Linked DNA regions of Homo sapiens: region 2 is linked to region 1. Evidence: fine-mapped expression QTL. A gene starts in region 1. The other region holds a variant in brackets. All regions are shown on one strand. Distances are from middle to middle. Region 1 holds the start of UBAP1 (ubiquitin associated protein 1). Region 2 overlaps UBAP1 (ubiquitin associated protein 1).

Region 1 (11,080 bases):
GCCAATGGGAGGCACTGGAAGAAGACTGGAGGTGAGAGGAAGAAGAAGCCAGGGCAGTTCTTCCTCTTCCGGCTATGGGGCATTTCCCAGCAGTGGCTGCATCGCTTCTGTGTGGTTTCCACTTCCCCTTCTTCTTCTCCTTTTTTTTTTTTTTTTTTTTTTTGAGACAGAGTGTCGCTCTGTCGCCCAGGCTGGAGTGCAGCAGCATGATCTCAGCTTACTGCAACTTTCATCTCCCGGGTTCAAGCTTTTCTCCTGTCTCAGCCTCCTGAGTAGCTGGGATTAGAGGTGCGCGCCACCAGGCCTGGCTAATTTTTTTTTTTTTTGTATTTTTGGTAGAGACGGGTTTTGGCCAAGCTGGTCTCGAACTCCTGACCTCAAGTGATCTGCCCACCTTGGCCTCCCAAAGTCGGCCTCCCAAAGTCAGCCTCCCAAAGTGCTGGAATTACAGGCGTGAGCCACTGCGCCTGGCCGCCCCTCCTTCTTTAGTCCCAAGTTCTGCTGCCCGCCCCACTCCAGCCAAATCCTATTTCCTCCACAGCCACAAATAATAATTTAGTGTGTGTCCTTTCAGTTTTTCATCCATGCTTATATATACACACACATATATATACACATATACACACACACATATATATACACACATATATACACATATATATACATACACACATATATAGATTATCTCTACACATTTTTTTTTTGCAAAAATAAATACCATATGCATTATTCTGCAACTTGCTTTTTACTCCACAATATACTGCTGTAACTGCGATAGTTACTGCCAAATTGCTCCACGAAAAGATTCTACCAATTTATACTGTTGTCAGCAGTGTATGAGAATGCTTATTTTGCTAGACACGGTGGCTCATGCCTAATCCCAGCACTTTGGGAGGTCAAGGTGGGAGGATTGCTTGAGACCAGGAGCTTGAGACCAGCCTGTGCACCATAGAGAGACTGTTTCTTTAAAAAAAAAAAAAAAAAAGTTTATCCATCTATGCACCATTGGATACACTTTATTTATTTATTTTTTTGAGACAAAGTCTTGCTCTGTCGCCCAGGCTGGAGTGCAGTGGTGCTATCTTGGCTCACTGCAACCTCTGCCTCCTGGGTTCAAGCGATTCTCCTGCCTCAGCCTCCCAAATGCTGGGATTACAGGTGCACACCACTACGCCGGCTAATTTTTGTATTTTTAGTAGACACAGGATTTTGCCATGTTGGCCAGGCTGATCTCGAACTCCCAACCTCAGGTGGTCCACCCGCCTTGGCCTCCCAAAGTGCTGGGATTACAGGTGTGAGCCACCATGCCCGGCTGGATATACTTTTTTATTAAATAATTTTTTTTAATCAATTAAGATGGGGGGCTGAGCATGGTAGCTCGTGCATGGAATTCCAGCACTTTGGGAGGCCACGGCAGCAGGATCACTTGGGGCCAAGAGTTTGAGACCAGCCTGGTCAATATAGCGAGATCCTGACTCTACAAAAAAGAAAAAAAAATGGCTGGGTGCCATGGCTCATGCCCATAGTCTTAGCACTTTGGTAAGCCGAGGCTGGCAGATTGCTTGAGCTCAGGAGTTTGAGACCAGCCTGGGCAACATGGTGAAACCCTGTCTCTACCAAAAATACACAAAATTGGTCAGGCATGGTGGTATGTGCTTGTGGTCCCAGCTACTCTGGAGATGGAGGTGGGAGGATCTCTTGAGCCTGGGAGGCAGAGGTTGCAGTGAGCTGAGATCACGCCACTGCACTCCAGCCTGGGTGACAGAAGACTGAAACCCTGTCTCAAAAAAAAAAAAAAAAACCACAAGCTGGGTGCGCTGGCTCATACCTATAATCTCAGCACTTCAGGAGGGGTGGGAGGTGGATCACTTGAGGCCAGGAGTTCAAGACCAGCCTAGCCAACATGGAGAAATCCCATCTCTACCAAAAATATAAAAAAAAAGCGGTGCATGGTGGCACATGCCTGTAATCCCAGCTACTTGGAAGCCTGAGGCAGGGGAATCATTTGAACCCGGGAGGCAGAGGTTGCAGTGAGCCGAGATTGTGTCACTGCACTCCAGCCTGGATGACAGAGCGAGACTACATTTCAAAAGAAAACAACACAAACAAACAAAACTTAAATAAAATAAAATAAAATAAAAATTAGCCAGGTATGGTGGCATGTACCTGCCAGTCCCAGCTATCCGGGAGGCTGAGGCGGGACGATCCCTTAAGTCCAGAAGTTCGAAGCTGCAGTGATCTATGATTGCACCACTGCACTCCAGCCTGGGTGACAGAACAAGGCCTGTTGCCCAGGATGGACTCAAACTCCTGGCCTCACTCCCGCCTCAGCCTCCCAAAGTGCTGAGATTATAGGCATGAGCCACTGCATCAGACCCAGCATTGGATATACTTGATCTTTTCAGCTTTTGCCAATTTGTTAGGTAAAAATTAGAGCCTTGTTTCATTTTTAAACATTATCAGCCCGGTGCGGTGGCTCACGCCTGTAATCCCAGCACTTTAGGAGGCCGAGGTGGGGAGGATCATGAGGTCGGGAGTTTGAGACCAGCCTGAACAACATGGTGAAACCCCATCTCTACTAAAAATACAAAAACTAGCCGAATGTGGTGGTGCATGCCTGTAATCCCAGCTATTCAGGAGGCTGAGGCAGGAGAATCGCTTGAACCCAGGAGGCAGAGGTTGTAGTGAGCCGAGATTGTGCCTTTGCACTCCAGCCTGGGCGACAAAGTGAGACTCTGTCTCAAAAAAAAAAAAAAATTATCAGTGATATTGACCATTTTCTCATACGTTCACTAGCTATTTGTATTTCTTCTTTGGCTAATTGCCTCTTGCAAACTATACACACTTTTTTTTAATTGAATCATTCCATTTTTCACACTGATTTGTAAAATTATTTGTATACTGGGAAAACTAACTTTTTCTGTTATATAGGTTACAAATATTTTCTTCCAGTTTATCTTTTCACTTTGTGTTTGGGGTCTTTTGCCATCATCAAATCTGTCAACTATTTCCTTCATGGCTTCTGCATTTGGTGTTATGATTAGACAAGTTCTTTCCATCCCATAACTCAGAAAATATTCTTCTATATTCTCTTTTAATATTTTATTGTACCTTTTTGTGTTTGTGTATTCATCTGGTGGAATGGAAAATTATCTATATCATGGTCATCAGGATAATTGCATCTTTATATGATGGTCATCACATCGTTCTTAGAATTGAGAGAAGCCTCAGAGGTTACCCAGATATCTGAGTCCTTCGTTGTAACTATGAGTTTCTGGGGAAGGGCAAAAGGTTTCAATCTGATCTTCAAGGTTCTAAGGATTCATCCTAACTTTTCCCTTGATTTTCCCAGGAGAAAAGATGTCTTTGCCAAGGATGCCAGTGACTTTTTCTTACAGACTTAGAACGGTTAAACCCAAGCCAAGCCTCTTCCTTCCTGGTTTCTCCAAACTTACCACCTTCTGCTCCTCTACATATACCCTTTGCTCTACTTACTGATCCTGAACATTCCTGGAAATTTCTTGCATCCATGCCTTTGCCCAGACTACTTTAGGCACCCTTCATTCTATCTGGCCTTTAAGGCCTAACTTAAATGCTTCAATTTGCCATGAAATCTCCGAATTTCTCAAGTGTACCTGAATTCCCTCTCCTCTCTACTCCTCAGGCATGGATTGTGCTACTTAAAGGACTCAGTTTATTTTCTTTCTTTATTTTTTTTTTTTGAGACAGAGTGTTGCTCTGTCACCCAGGCTGGAGTGCAGTGGCGTGATCTCTGCTCACTGCAACCTCCGCCTCCCGGGTTCAAGCGATTCTCCTGCCTCAGCCTCCCAAGTAGCTGGGACTACAGGTGTGTGCTACCACACCTGGCTAACTTTTTGTATTTTTAGTAGAAACGGGTTTCACCGTGTTAGCCAGGATGGTCTCGATCTCCTGACCTCATGATACGCCTGCCTCAGCCTCCCAAAGTGCTGGGATTACAGGTGTGATCCACCACGCCCGGCCGGACTCAGTTTATTTTCTGTCAGGTGCCATCATTATCTGGACACTTATCTGCTTCCCTCACTGGGCTGCCTTGAGAGCATCTTTGCAGACTTGTGGTGCCTGGCACATGGTAGGACTTAATTAGTACTGGATGGCTAAATGAATGAAATATTGTAGAGGTGGTTGTCTGTCTTTTCTGTCTCTGTTCTTAGACATTGTAAATGCCTGGTGTATAAAGGGAGGGAGAAAGAAGACAGAAAGAGGGAGGGTGCAGGTTGGTGCCCCTTTTTTCTCTATTGCTGTTGGCAGGCCAGCAGGTATGCTGGCCACTGTCTACGTGCACTGAGAGGGAAAGATACAGGGTAGGGGAAACAGAGGACTGGCATCCTATTCAGCCTCTTCTGGCCCCAGGTGAGTCAACACTGGGATTCACACCTAGAAACTGACAAGTATGAATCACTCCTAGGAAGGTTAAGAGGTATTTGTTTTTCTAGGTAAATGCCTCCACTTCTTTTCCATTTCTTTTTTTTTTTTTTTTTTTTTTGAATGGAGTTTTGCTCTCGTTGCCCAGGCTGGAGTGCAATGGTGTGATCTCAGCTAACCGCAATCTCTGCCTCCTGGGCTCAAGCAATTCTCCTGCCTCAGCCTCCCAAGTAGCTGGGATTACAGGCATTTGCCACCACACCTAGCTAATTTTTTTTGTATTTTTAGTAGAGACGGGGTTTCTCCATGCTGGTCAGGCTGGTCTTGAACTCCTGACCTCATGTGATCTGCCCGCCTCGGCCTCCCAAAGTGCTGGGATTACAGGCATGAGCCACTGTGCCTGGCCTTTTTTTTTTTTCTGAGACAGAGTGTTGCTCTGTCACCTAGGCTGGAGTGACGTGGCGCAACCTCACCTCACTGCAACCTCCACCTCCCAGGTTCAAGTGATTCTTCTGCCTCAGCCTCTTGAATAGCTAGGATTACAGCTGCCACCATCACGCCCAGCTAATTTTTGAATTTTTAGTAGAGATGGGGTTTCACCATGTTGGCCAGGCTGCTCTCGAACTCCTCACCTCAGGTTATCCACCTGCCTTGGCCTCCCAAAGTCCTGGGATTATAGGCATGAGCCACTGCGCCCAGACTTTTTTTTTTTTTTTTTTTTTTGAGACAGGGTCTGGCTTTGTCACCCAGGCTGGAGTGCAGTGGCTTGATCTCGCTCACTGTAACCTCCTCCTCTTGGGTTCAAGCGATTCTCATGCCTCAGCCTCCCACATAGCTGGGATTACAGGCGCCCACCTAGCTAATTTTTATTTTGTATTTTTAGTAGAGATGGGGTTTCACCATGTTGGGTAGGCTGGTCTTAAACTCCTGACCTCAGATGATCTGCCTGCCTCAGCCTCCCAGAGTTCTGGGATTACAGGCGTGAGCCACCACACCCGACCTTGTTTTTTTTTTTTTTTTTTTTTTGAGACAGAGTCTTGCTCTGTTGCCCAGGCTAGAGTGCAATGGCATGATCATTGCTCACAGCAGCCTTAACCTCCCAGGCTGAGGCCATTTTCTCACCTCAGCCTCCTGACTAGCTGGGACCACAGATGTGTACAACCATGTCTGGCTAATTTTTTACAATTTTATTTTATTTTTAGACAGGGTCTCATTTGCAGAACCCAATAGCTGGGACTACAGTCGTGTACCACCATGCCCAACTGTTTTTTGTTGTTGTTAGAGATGAAGATTCTCCACGTTGCCCAGGCTGGTCTCAAACTCCTGAGCTCAAGAGATCTGACCATCTTGGCCTCCCAAAGTGCTGGGATTACAGGCGTTAGCCATCGTGCCTAGTCATTTTATTTTATTTTATTTTATTGCGACAAGATCTTGCTCTGTCACCCATGTTTGGAGTACACCAGCACAATCCTGGCTCACTGTAGCCTCGACCTCTCAGGCTCAAGTGATCCTCCTATCTCAGCCTCCTGAATAGTTAGGACCACAGGCACATGCCACCACGCCCAGATAATTTGAGTTTTTGTAGAGACAAGGTCTCACTATGTTGCCCAGGCTCACCTAATTTTTACCAAACTTTTTGTAGAGACGGGGGTCTCATGTTGCTTAAATTGGTCTTGAACTCCTGGGCTCAAGAGTCATCTTATTCAATTAATAATTCTCTGTCTCCTAATTCCAGCAGACATAGAAAGACACAGAAGGCCAGCGCCATGGCTCACGCCTACAATCCCAGCAATTTGGGAGACTGAGGCTTGAGCCCAGAAGTTTACCACCAGCCTGGGCAACATGGTGAGACCCCGTCTCTCCATATATATATATAAAATAATAAAAATTATCCGGGCGTGTTGGCATGTGGCTATAGTCCAAGCTACTCAGAAGGCTGAGGTGGGAGGATCACTTGAGCCCGACAGGTGGAGGTTGCAGGGTTGCAGTGCGCCAACATCGCGCCACTGCACTCCAGCCTAGGCGACAGAGCGAGACCCTGTCTCAAAAAAACAAAAAACACCCCAAACAGAAACAACAACAACAACAAAAACCCCCACAGAAGGCAGTGAAGGCTTGGGATAGGATTACCTGGTTTAAACCCATAGAATGTCAGAATTGAAGGAAGACTTAGAGGTCACCTTTGTTTTTTTTTCTTTTGATACAGAGTCGCGTTCCGTTGCCCACCTGGAGTGCAGTGGCGCGATCACGGCTACCGCAGCCTCGACCTCCCGGGCTCAAGCGACCCTCCTGCCTCGGCCTCTCAAAGTGCTGGAGTTACAGGCGTGAGCCACTGCGCCCGGCCTAGAAGTCACCTTTCAACTTAGTCCTCTATACATGGGAAAAGTGAGGTCCAGAAAGGGTATGAGTTGTACCAGGTCGCTGACCCTGAACAGAAGCTAGATGTCTTAATTCCCAAATAGGACTCGCTGCTAACTCTTTGGGCATACCTTCGCGATTCAAGGCTCTTGGGTTTCCCGCTTTGGCCGCCTCGCCAAACCCAAGTCTTACACTCTTAGTGACCCCCTCCTTTCCTCCTTCCCCCTTAGGTCAGCAGGGTTTACTCATTCCAATTGCAATGCTCCATGTTGCCGGAGTAGCTCCTCGCTAGAAGAGAGATTAGTTATGTCACCGTCGGCTCCTCCCATTGGTCCGGGCGTGTGGAGCGCGGCGCCATGACGTCAGACGCCCAAATGAGTGGGGCGGTGAGGGGAAGGAGGAGGGAAGTAGGACTTCAACATGGCGGCTGCGGCACTGGCGGTGGCTACGGTGACGGCCTGGCCCGGAGCGGGCAGAGTTGGAGGTGGTGGCGTTCGCTCTCCCTAGGGGCTGTCGGGAGCTCAGCGGGGACCGAGCCTGGGAGGCCGGCCGGTGCCAGCACCTTTCGGCTTCTGAGACGGCGGCAGCAGCGGCATTCAGGTGAGGGGGGCCTCCCTCTGGGGGAGGGGGAAGAGGGGCGGAGTTGGGGGAGGGGGGCTGGTACTGGGAGACTGGGAAACGGGATGGGGGGCCGAGCGAGGTGAAGGGCGCCGGAGCTAGGAGGTGGGAGGGAAAAGTGGCCGGAGATCCGCGATTCGGGGAGGATTCTGGGAGAAGGGTCGGAGTGAGGGGACCGGAGTTGAAGGGGCGGAGGGGAAGTGGGATGCGGAAAAATGAGTTCGGATTAAGGAGACTAATACCCTACTGGAAGACAGGCATAGTAGACATCTATCGGGCTGGACTGAGAACTCGGTGGGAACTAGAGGATGTCAGGGAGGGGGACCCAGATTTTAGTAAAGAAGGTGAGTGGTGGGGAGTTGAGGGTGAGCTGGGGACGTGCGGTGTAGATTTAGTTCTCCCTGAGGCAATGAGATTGGGGAGAAAAGGTGGAGACTAGACCAGAGGTGAGTGATCTTTGGGGATATCTTTGGCCTTGTCTGGTCTTCTCCAGGTATGTTTATCCGCCTTTTTTGTTTCTTGGGTGGAGGCTTACCTATACAGTCCACCTGGGCCTCAGGAACCGCCCCAGTCTTTCTTGTGGAACGTCAGGTTCATTTATTTGAGCTATATCAGTGATCTTTGACCTTTGTTGCCAAATGTAATTGTTTCCAGACTAGCGTCTTAAAAGTATGGTTGGGCATAAAAATACGTTTTATGTTAAACTGAAAAAAAAATTGTTACTTTTAGTCACCATGCAGTGTTGCGAAACCAGATTTGGTAATTTAGTTAAGTATTACGTATATTCTGTTCTAACTTTACTCGTTAGTGCTTTGTCTCTTCAGTTATTAGCATTTGAGAATTTGAATAGATATGATGGATGTTTTCCTTTTTAATTTTGTCAGATTTGATGGTGGGAAAAACAAGATACTTAGTCTTTAGTGATATATAGTTCTTTCTAGTTAATGTCCCAACCTAAACTAAAAGTTTCCGTATTGGCCGGGCGCTGTGGCTCACGTCTGAAATCCCAGCACTTTGGGAGGCCGAGGCGGGCGGATCACGAGGTCAAGAGTTCAAGACCAGCCTGACCAACATGTTGAAACCCTTTCTCTACTAAAAAGCCAGCCGGGCGTGGTGGCAGGCGCCTGTAATCCCAGCTACTCGGGTGGCCGAGGCAGGAGAATGGCTTGAACCTGGGAGGCGGAGGTAGCAGTGAGCCTAGATCGCTGCATTGCACTCCAGCCTGGGCAACAGAGCGAGACTCCGACTCAAAAAAAAAAAAAAAGTTTACGTATTATGGCAAAGAATGTGAAATGTGTCAAGTCTTAAAAGAATTACATTGTCCGCATTAACTTACTATAAGTGAAATTTTATTAAATTTTTGTTTCTAGTTCTATTAATTCATGGTGTTTATTAAATAGCTACTGTGTGTTGCAATAATAAGAGTCATTATAATTACAGAAATGCTAAACTTAATGTTTCTTTAGTGAGTGACCATCGCTGTCATTGCACAGCAGATAACTTTACTAACCTGCTAGAACCTCATTGGAAAAAAAACTTTTTTTTTTTTTTGTTTCTTTTTATTTTTTTCCAGAGGGAGTCTCGGTCTGTTGCCCAGGCTGGAGTGCAGTGGCGCGATCTTGGCTTGCTGCAACCTCCGCCTCCTGGGTTCAAGTGACTGTCCTGCCTCAGCCTCCCGAGTAGCTGAGATTATAGACACCCACCACTACGGCTGGCTAATTTTTGTATTTTAGTAGAGACGGGGTTTCACCATGTTGGTCAGGCTGGTCTCGAACTTCTGACCTCAAATAATCCTCCGGCCTTGGTCTCCGAAAGTGCTGGGATTACAGGCGTGAGCCACCGCACCCGGCCTGTTTTCTTTTTTTTTTTTTTTTTGAGACAGAGTTTCGCTCTGTGCCCAGGCTGGAGTGCAGTGGCGCAATCTCAGCTCACTGCAAGCTCCGCCTCCCGGGCTTGCCATTCTCCTGCCTCAGCCTCCTCAGTAGCTGCGATTACAGGCGCCTGCCACACACCTGGCTAATTTTTTAAAATATTTTTTTAGTAGAGACGGGGTTTCACCGTGTTAGCCAGGATGGTGTCCATCTGCTGACCTCGTGATCCACCCGTCTTGGCCTCCCAGAGTGCTGGGATTACAGGCGTGAGCCACCGCGCCCGGCCTTTTTTATTTTTATTTGTATTTTATTTTATTTTTTGAGACGGAGTCTCCCTCTGTCGCCCAGGCTGGAGTGCAGTGGCGCGATCTCGGCTCTCTGCAAGCTCTGCCTCCCGCGTTCACGCCATTCTCCTGCCTCAGCCTCCTGAGTAGCTGGGACTACGGGCTCCCGCCACCACGCCCGGCTAATTTTTTGTATTTTTAGTAGAGACGGGGTTTCACTGGGTTAGCCAGGATGGTCTCGATCTCCTGACCTCGTGATCCGCCCGCCTTGGCCTCCCAAAGTGCTGGGATTACAGGCGTGAGCCACCGTGCCAGGCCTTTTTTTTTTTTTTTTTAATGAAGGCAAAGGAAAAAAATTAAACTCTGTAAATATGAAAACTTCTTCAGTTTCTTTCGTTTAGTATTTAAGACTGATTTCCTAATCATGGCATTTCTTCTGTGTATTCTTCTGAAATATTTTTTCATTTTGATTTTGAAGACAGAGTATTCTGAAAAGATAATAATAGATCTGTAGACAAGTCTCATCAATGATTGTTAGTGCATTTTTTAATTAAAATTTTTTTTTTTGTAGAGAAGGGGTCTCTTATGTTGCCCAGTCTGATTTTGAACTCCTGAGCTCAAGTGATCCTCCCACCACAGCCTCCCAAACTGCTGGGAGGCATGAGCAGCTAGTGCACGTATTTTTGACTGGTGAATGTCACATTATTTGGTGTATCTTTTAACTATGGTATTTAAGGATCCCTGACGTTTATTTATTTATTTATTTATTTATTTATTTATTTATTTATTGAGACTGAGTCTCGCACTGTTGCCCAGGCTGGAGTGCTGTGGCGTGATCTCAGCTCACTGCAACCTCCATTTCCCAGGTTCAAGTGATTCTCCTGCCTCAGCCTCCCAAGTAGCTGGGATTACAGGCACCCACCACCACACCCGGCTAATTTTTATAGTTTTAGTAGCGACGGGGTTTCACAACGTTGGCCAGGCTGGTCTTGAACTCCTGACCTCAAATGACCTACCCGCCTCGGCCTCCCAAAGTGCAGGGATTACAGACGTGAGCCATGGCGCCCAGATGGATCCCTGACGTTTAATTCAGTGACTAAAATTCTTATTATTTTCAGCATTATAGTTGAAATATCATTAGCCTTGAGTGTAAATGCCAATATTACAAGCTTTTCGTGTTCTTTTTTCTTTTTCTTTCTTTCCTTCTTTCTTTCTTTCTTTCTTTCTTTCTTTCTTTCTTTCTTTCTTTCTTTCTTTCTTTCTTTCTTTCTCTCTCTCTTTCTTTTCTTTTCTTTCTCTCTCTTTCTCTCTCTCCTTTCTTTCTTTTCACTCAGTCGCCCAGGCTGGGGTACAGTGGCTCGATCTCTGCTCACTGCAAGCTCCGCCTCCTGGGTTCACGCCATTCTCCTGCCTCAGCCTCCTGAATAGCTGGGACTACAGGTGCCCACCACCACGCCTGGCTAATTTTTTGTAGTTTTAGTAGAGATGGGGTTTCACCGTGTTATCCAGGATGGTCTCGATCTCCTGGCTAATTTTTTGTAGTTT
Region 2 (8,000 bases), 39 kb after region 1:
TCACTGATAAGTTGTTGGTTTTGGGATTTCTAAGTTTTATTAGTGTAAAAGTTCTTGAATTATGAATGTGTGTTCCAATCCATACCACCAGCTAAAAAAGAAAAAGAATATGTTTTATTGTTATTTTTGATTGATACTTTCCCTTTAATAGAAGCATATACTTATTTTAGTGGAAATTTATGATTGATTATAAATTTTTTTCCCTGTGATTAATTATAGCTTTACATTAGTGGCAAACATTTCTTTCAGTCTTGTTTTGTGCACATTTTTTACATAAGGCAATTTAATTTAATTTATTAAAACATTTTAAAATTTATAATTATTGGCCAGGAATGGTGGCTTATACCTGTAATCCTAGCACTTTGGGAGGCCAAGGCAGGAGGATAGCTTGAGTTCAGAAGTTCAAAACCAGCCTGGTTAACATAGTGAGACCTCATTTCTATTAAAACACACACACACACACACACACACACACACACACTTATAGTTATTTTCTATTTATTATATGCTTTTTAAAAATAAAATAATTTTTTTAGTTCCATGTCTACTCCTATGTTATGTGCCTTTAGTAGACACTCTTAGTGCCATCACAACGTTATCTTCTGGATTTTCCATTATTTAATCATTTTTCCATAATTGAGTATTTAGATAATAGGAGAGTATTGTAAAATAAATGGGTTTAGGGAAAATACAACCCTCCTAGCTTAAATCAGGAGGAATTGGATACCCTGAACAGACCAATAACAAGCAGCAAGATTGAAATGGTAATTTAAAAATTACCAACAAAAAAGTCCAGGACCAGATGGCTTCACAGCAGAATTCTACCAGACATTCAAAGAAGAGTTGGTACCAATCCTTCTGACACTATTCCACAAGATAAAGAAGGAACCATGCCTAATTCATTGTATAAAGCCAGCATCACCCTACCAAAACCAGGAAAGGACATAACCAAAAAAGAAAACTACAGACTAATATCCTTGATGAACATAGATGCTAAAATCCTTAACAAAATACTAGCTAACCAAATCTAGCAACATATCAAAAAGATAATCCACCATGATCAAGTGGGTTTCATACCAGGGATGCAGGGATGGTTTAACATATTTAAGTCAATAAATGTGATACACCACATAAACAGAATTAAAAACAAAAGTCACATGATCATCTCAATAGATGCAGAAAAAGCATTTGACAAAATCCAGCATCCCTTTATGATTAGAACTCTCAGCAAAATCAGCATACGAGGGACATACCTCAATGTAATGAAAGCCATCTCTGGGCCAGGTGCAGTGGCTCACATCACACCTGTAATCCCAGCACTTTGGGAGGCCGAGGCAGGTGGATTACCTGAGGTCAGGAGTTTGAGACCAGCCTGGCCAACATGGTGAAACCCCGTCTCATCTAAAAATACAAAAATTAGCTCGGCATGGTGGCAGGCGCTTGCAATCCCAGCTACTCAGGAGACTGAGACAGGAGAATCGCTTGAACCCAGGAGGTGGAAGTTGCAGTGAGCCGAGATCGCACCATTGCACTCCAGCATGGGCGACAGAGCGAGACTCTGTCTCAAAAACAAAAACAAAAAAACCCAACCATCTATGACACACCTACAGCCAACCTAATACTGAATGGGGAAAAGTGGAAAGCATTACCTGTGAGAACTAGAACAAGACAAGGATGCCTGTTCTCACCACTCCTCTTCAACATAGTACTGGAAGTCCTAGCCAGAACATTCAGACAAGGGAAAGAAAGAAAGGGCATCCAAACTGGTAAAGAGGAAGTCAAACTGTCACTGTTTGCTGACAATATGATCGTTTACCTTGAAAACCCTAAAGCCTCCTCCAGAAAGCTCCTAGAACTGATAAAAGAATTCAGCAAAGTTTCTGGATACAAGATTAATGTACACAAATCAGAAGCTCTTCTATACACCAACAGTGACCAAGCAGAGAATCAAATAAAAAACTCAACCCCTTTTACAACAGCTGCAAAAAAAAAAAATACTTAGGAATATACCTAACTAAGGAGTCAAAAGACCTCTACAAGGAAAACTACAAAACACTGCTGAAAGAAATCATAGATGGCACAAACAAATGGAAGCACATCCCATGCTCATGGATGGGTAGAATCAATATTGTGAAAATGACCATACTGCCAAAAGCAATCTACAAATTCAATGTAATCCCCATCAAAATACCACCATCATTCTTCACAGAATTAGAAACAACATTTCTAAAATTCATATGGAACAAAAAAAGAACCTGCATAGCCAAAGCAAGACTAAGCAAAGAGAACAAATCTGGAGGCATCACACTACCTGATTTCAAACTATACTATAAGGCCATAGTCACCAAAACAGCACGGTACTGGTATAAAAATAGGCACACAGACCAATGGAACAGAATAGAGAACCCAGAAATAAACCCAAATACTTACAGCCAATTGATCTTCGACAAAGCAAACAAAAACATAAAGTGGGGAAAGGATACCCTTTTTAACAATAGCACTGGGATAATTGGCTGGCCATATGTAGGACAATGAAACTGGATCCTATACAAGATAGATTAAGGACTTAACGACCTGAAGCTATAAAAAATTCTAGAAGGTATCATTGGAAAAACCCTTCTAGACATTGGCTTAGGCGAGGATTTCATGACCAAGAACCCAAAAGCAAATGCAATAAAAACAAAGATAAATAGCTGGGACCCAATTAAGCTAAAGAGCTTTTGCACAGTAAAAGGAATAGTCAGCAGAGTAAACAGACAACCCACAGAGTGGGAGAAAATCTTCATAATGTATACATCTGACAAAGGACTGATATCCAGAATCTACAACCAACTCAGTAAGAAAAAAACAATCCCATCAAAAAGTGGGCTAAGGACATGAATAGACAGTTCTCAAAAGAGGATATACAGATGGCCAACAAACATGAAAAATGCCCAACATCACTAATGATCAGGGAAGTGCACATCAAAACCACAATGTGATACCACCTTACTCCTGCAAGAATGGCCATAATAAAAAAATAAAAAAACAGTAGATGTTGGCGTGGATGCAGTGATCAGGCAACACATTTACACTGCTGTGGGAATGTAAACTAGTACAGCCACTCTGGAAAACAGTGTGGAGATTCCTTAAAGAACTAAGAGTAGAACTACCATTTGATCCAGCAGTCCCACTACTGGATATCTACCCAGAGGAAAAGAAGTCATTTGAAAAAGATGCTTGCACATGTATGTTTATAGCAGCACAATTCACAAGTGTAAAATCATGGAAGCAACCCAAATGCCTATCAA[C/T]GAATGGATAAACTGCTGTGTGTATATATGTATATATGATAGTGTGTGTGTGTGTATATATATGTATATAAGTATGTATATATGTGTCATATATATATATATATGATGGAATACTGCTCAGCTGTAAAAAGGAATGAATTAGCATTTGCAGTGACTTGGATGAGATTGGAGACTGTTCTAAGTAAAGTAACTCAGGAATGGAAAACCAAACATCTAATGTTCTCACTGATAGGTGAAAGCTAAGCTATGAGGACGCAAAGGCATAAGAATGATACAGTGGACTTTGGTGACCTGGGGGGAAGGGTTGGAGGGGGGTGAGGGATAAAAGACCACAAATAGGGTGCAGCGTATACTGCTCGGGTGATGGGTGCACCGAAATCTCACAAATCACCACTAAGGAACTTATGTAACTGAATACCACCTGTACCCCAATAACTTATGGAAAAATAAATAATAAAAAAAGGGTTTAAAAAAGTATAGGAAGTTATTGGTGAAACGTGTGTACATATATATATGTACACACACACACACACATACATGTATGTACATATATATAAAAGATGTTCTGGGGGAAGAAAACTGACCCTAAATAGGTATTAAAATGCCTTTGAGCTTTGAGAGACTGAAGTTTTGCTGCATAGTGGACCTTAGAAAAATCTTTATGTGCCCAAATATAGATTTCTCATATTCTTAAGGACTGTGGAAAATAATATATAATATGGGAAAAAAATATTTTATCAGCTCTATTGAGGCATGATTTAAAAAATTTTACATTATTTACTAATAAAGAGAACTGTATTTTATTTTTCATTTACTATTCCTTGTGGTCTTCTATCTAGTTGTTCACTGCCTCATTGCCTCTCTGATTTTCAAACTTGGAAGTTATTGACACGCGTCTTTCTGGCCCTCTCCTCTGGAGCACCTCTCTGCTGCCAATTTTTTTCTGCCATTTTTTTTTTTGTAATTTAATTTAAAAAAAAACTTACTGAGGTGAAATTCACATAGCATGAAATTAACCATGTTAAAATGATCAATTTAGTGGCATTTAGTACTCTCATAGTGTTGTGTAATCACCATATCTGGTTCTGAAACCTTTCCTTCACTCCAAAGGAGACCCTTACCAACTACACAGTTTCTCTTTCCCAGACCCAGGCAACCGCCAGTCTGCTTTCAGTCTCTTTGGATTTTCCCTTTCTGGACACCTCATATGAATGGCATCACACAATATTTGTGAACTTTTATGTCTTCTTTTTTTTATTTTAAATTTTTTTTAGAGCTGGGGTCTCACTCTGTTGCCCAGGCTGCAGTGCAGTGGTGCGATCATAGCTCACTGCAGCCTTTTACCACCTGGACTCAAGTGAACCTGATTAGCTGGGACTACAGGCATGCACCACCACACCATGCTAATTTTTTTTTTTTTTTTTTTTTTTTTTTTGAGACTGGCTCTCTTGCCCAAGCTGGAGTGCAGTGGCTTAATCATGGCTCACGGCAACCTTTGCCTCCTGGGCTCAAGCCATCCTCCCACCTCAGCCTCCCAAGTAGCTGGGACTACAGGTGCGTACCACCATGCTCGGCTAATGTTTGTATGTTTAGTAGAGATGGGGTTTGGCCATATTACCCAGGGTGGTCTCAAACTCCTGAGCTCTAGTTAATTTTGAAATATAGAATATATTATTGTTAACTGTAGTCACCTTACTGTACAATAGAATACCAGAACTTATTCTTCCTATGTGATGGTAACTTTAATCATTCATCAACTTCTCCCCATCCCACTCCCTGCCCTTCCCTTTACTACCCTCCCCACCTCTCCGGCCTCTGGTAATTACTATTATACTCTCTACTCTTTTGGGAAGGGTGTTTGCTATTTATTTATGATAAATATTCCACATCTGTGATTCTCCACAGTCAGAAGTTCTTTGAGAGGATGCCATCAGCCTTGGTCAGTCAGAGAATGGAGTCATCTGATTTACCATCCTGTGAATGGCCCTAGGCAGATAGCATAGGTGATTGTTGTTACTGTTTTGAGACAGAATCTCTGTTGCCCAAGCTGGAGTGCAGTGGCATGATCTCAGCTCACTGCAGCCTCTGCCTCCTGGGTTCAAGTGATTCTTCTGCCTCAGCCTCCCAAGTAGTTGAGACTACAGGCATGTGCCACCATGCCCGGCTAATTTTTGTATTTTTGTAGATACTGGGTTTCACCATGTTGGCCAGGCTGGTCTCGAATTCCTGACCTCAGGTGATCTGCCTTCTTCGGCTTCTCAAAGTTCTAAGATTACAGTCGTGAGCCACCGTGCCTGGCTGGTGGCGGTGGTGGTTTTTTTAATTTTTTTAATTTTTGTTTTTTCAACTTTTATTTTGATTCGGGGGCACATGTGCGGTTTGTTACCTGAGTAACAAAAAAAAAAGCCTCTGCCTTTATGAGATAAACTTTTTTATATTCTGTATGAGTAAGATCATACAAAATTTGTCTTTCTGTGTCTGGCTTGTTTCAGTTAACACAAAGTCCTGCAGATTCATTCACATTGTCATAAATGACAGGATTTCGTTCTTTTTTTTTTTTTTTTTTTTTTTTTTTTTTGAGACAGACAGTCTTGCTGAGTTGCCCAGGCTGGAGTGCAGTGGCACCATCTCGGCTCACTGCAACCTCCGTCTCCCAGCCTCAAGTGATTCTCATGCTGGATTTCATTCATTTTTTTATGGTGAACAGTTGAGCCTTTTAAAAAAGCCAAGCATCTGGCTGGGTGCAGTAGCTCGCGTCTGTGATCCCAGCACTTTGGGAGGCCGAGGCGGGTGGATCACAAGGTCAAGAGATCCAGATTATCCTGGCCAACATGGTGAAACCCCGTCTCTACTAAAAATACAAAAAATTAGCCAGGCGTGGTGGCGGGGGCCTGTAGTCCCAGCTACTCCGGAGGCTGAGGCAGGAGAATGGCTTGAACCCGGGAGGCGGTGGTTGCAGTGAGCCGAGATCATGCCACTGCACTCCAGCCTGGTGACAGAGCGAGACTCCATCTCAAAAAAAAAAAAAAAAAAAAAAAAAAAAAAAAAAAAAAAAAAAAGCCAAGCACATCCATTTAAATTTTGGTGGAACTTCTTTATAACATTCCTGGTGTCAGCATATTCTAGGTGTTGTTTGGAAAATTATTTATTAAATCAAAGACTCAGCCTCTCTCAAGTTCTTTACCTCAACAACAGTTGCTTCTTCAAACAGCTGATATCACACAATTTTTATTGTGGTTATAGAAATGAAACACTAATTTTCTGCATATGTCTGTGAGCATATTCACAACTCATTGCTGGAAGTTTAGATACCGCTACTTTCCCAATTTAGGAAAACAGATTTCTGGTATGTGCCTACGTGGGAAGGTTGAGGCTGCTAAGAGTCTTGCTTCTGGGTTTTAGAAGTCTCACTGTGAGACCGGGTGCAGTGGCTCATGCCTGTAATTGCAGCACTTTGGGAGGCTGGGGTGAGTGGATCACTTGAGCCCAGGAGTTTAAGACCAGCCTATCCAACATGGCAAAACCCCGTTTCTACTAAAAATACAAAATAATTAGCCGGGTGTGATGGCACACTCCTGTAATCCCAGCTACTCAGGGAAGCTGAGGCATGAGAATTGTTTGAACCTGGGAGGCAGAGGTTGCAATAAAGATTGTGCCACTGCACTCCAGCCTGGGTGACAGCAAGATGCCTGTGAATGTTTTCTGCACATATAAAAAGGTTAAATCATTTTCAGTATGGTTTGCTGGTTCTTTGAAAATTGATAATACATACACTTTATAAATTTAATTCTCCATGAACTACAATATCAAACAGAATACACTCTATCTCTACACCATGCTGAAAAATGGAAACTTTTTTTTTTTCTTTTTGGTAACAGGATCTTGCTGTGTCGCCTAGGCTGGAGTGCAGTGGCACAATCACTGGTCACTGCAGCCTTGACTTCCTGGGCTCAGGTGATTCTCCTACCTCAGCCTCCCGAGTAGCAGGGACTACAGGCATGCAACACCACACCGGCAAATTTTTTGTATCTTTGTAGAGATGAGGTTTCACCATGTTGCCCAGGCTGGTCTTCGAACTCCTGGGCTCAAGTAATCCACCTGCCTCAGCCTTCCAAAATGTGGGATTACATGTGTAAGTCACCACGCCTGGCTGAAAACAGAAACTTTTCAAGAAAAGTTTTAAAAGAAACTACCAAATTAATAGATGTTACCATATAACGTTCAGAAATACAAATATTTTATGAATTATTTCCAGTCCTATTACTTGGAGGCAACCATTGTAAATATTTTTTATGTACAAGTTGAGTATCCCTCATCTAAATCCTTGGCACCAGAAGTGTTTCAGATTTCAGATTTTCTAACTTTTTGCCTCATACTTATTGGTTCAGCATCCCTAATCTGAAAAAAATGCCCCTGTGAACATTGAGTTTTGTCTTGTCTCCCTCCCCTCCCCTCCTTTCCTCTCCTCTCCTCTCCCCTCCCTTCCCCTCCCCTCCCCCTCCCCCTTCCCCTCCCCTCCCCTCCCCTCTCCCCTCCCTTCTCCTCTCCCCTTTCCCATCTCCACTTTCCCCTCTCCCCTCCCCCTTCCCTCTCCCTTCCCCTTCCCCTCCCCCTTCCCTCTCCCTTCCCCTCCCCCTTCCCTCTCCCTTCCCCTCCCCTCTCCCTTCCCACCTCCCCCCTCTCCCCTCCCCTCCCCTCCCTTCTCCCCTC

Evidence for each region. PIP is the estimated chance that this variant, and not a neighbour inherited with it, causes the effect.
Region 2: its variant is the best candidate, but not a certain one, in a credible set for the expression of UBAP1 in whole blood (INTERVAL, PIP 0.73).

What each region holds. Positions count from the first base shown.
Region 1 is chr9:34,171,879-34,182,958 of GRCh38, forward strand. UBAP1 (ubiquitin associated protein 1) reads left to right here and starts at 7,165. Exons shown (of 7, transcript NM_016525.5): 1 at 7,165-7,362. RefSeq lists a silencer at 4,233-4,527 and enhancers at 6,214-7,172, 6,978-7,407, 7,173-8,129, 8,130-9,087.
Region 2 is chr9:34,211,946-34,219,945 of GRCh38, forward strand. All of the region lies in intron 1 of UBAP1 (ubiquitin associated protein 1), which reads left to right. Among named protein-coding and RNA genes, the nearest start is that of UBAP1, 37 kb to the left of the region's middle. The variant C/T (reference allele first, on the strand shown) is at 3,291.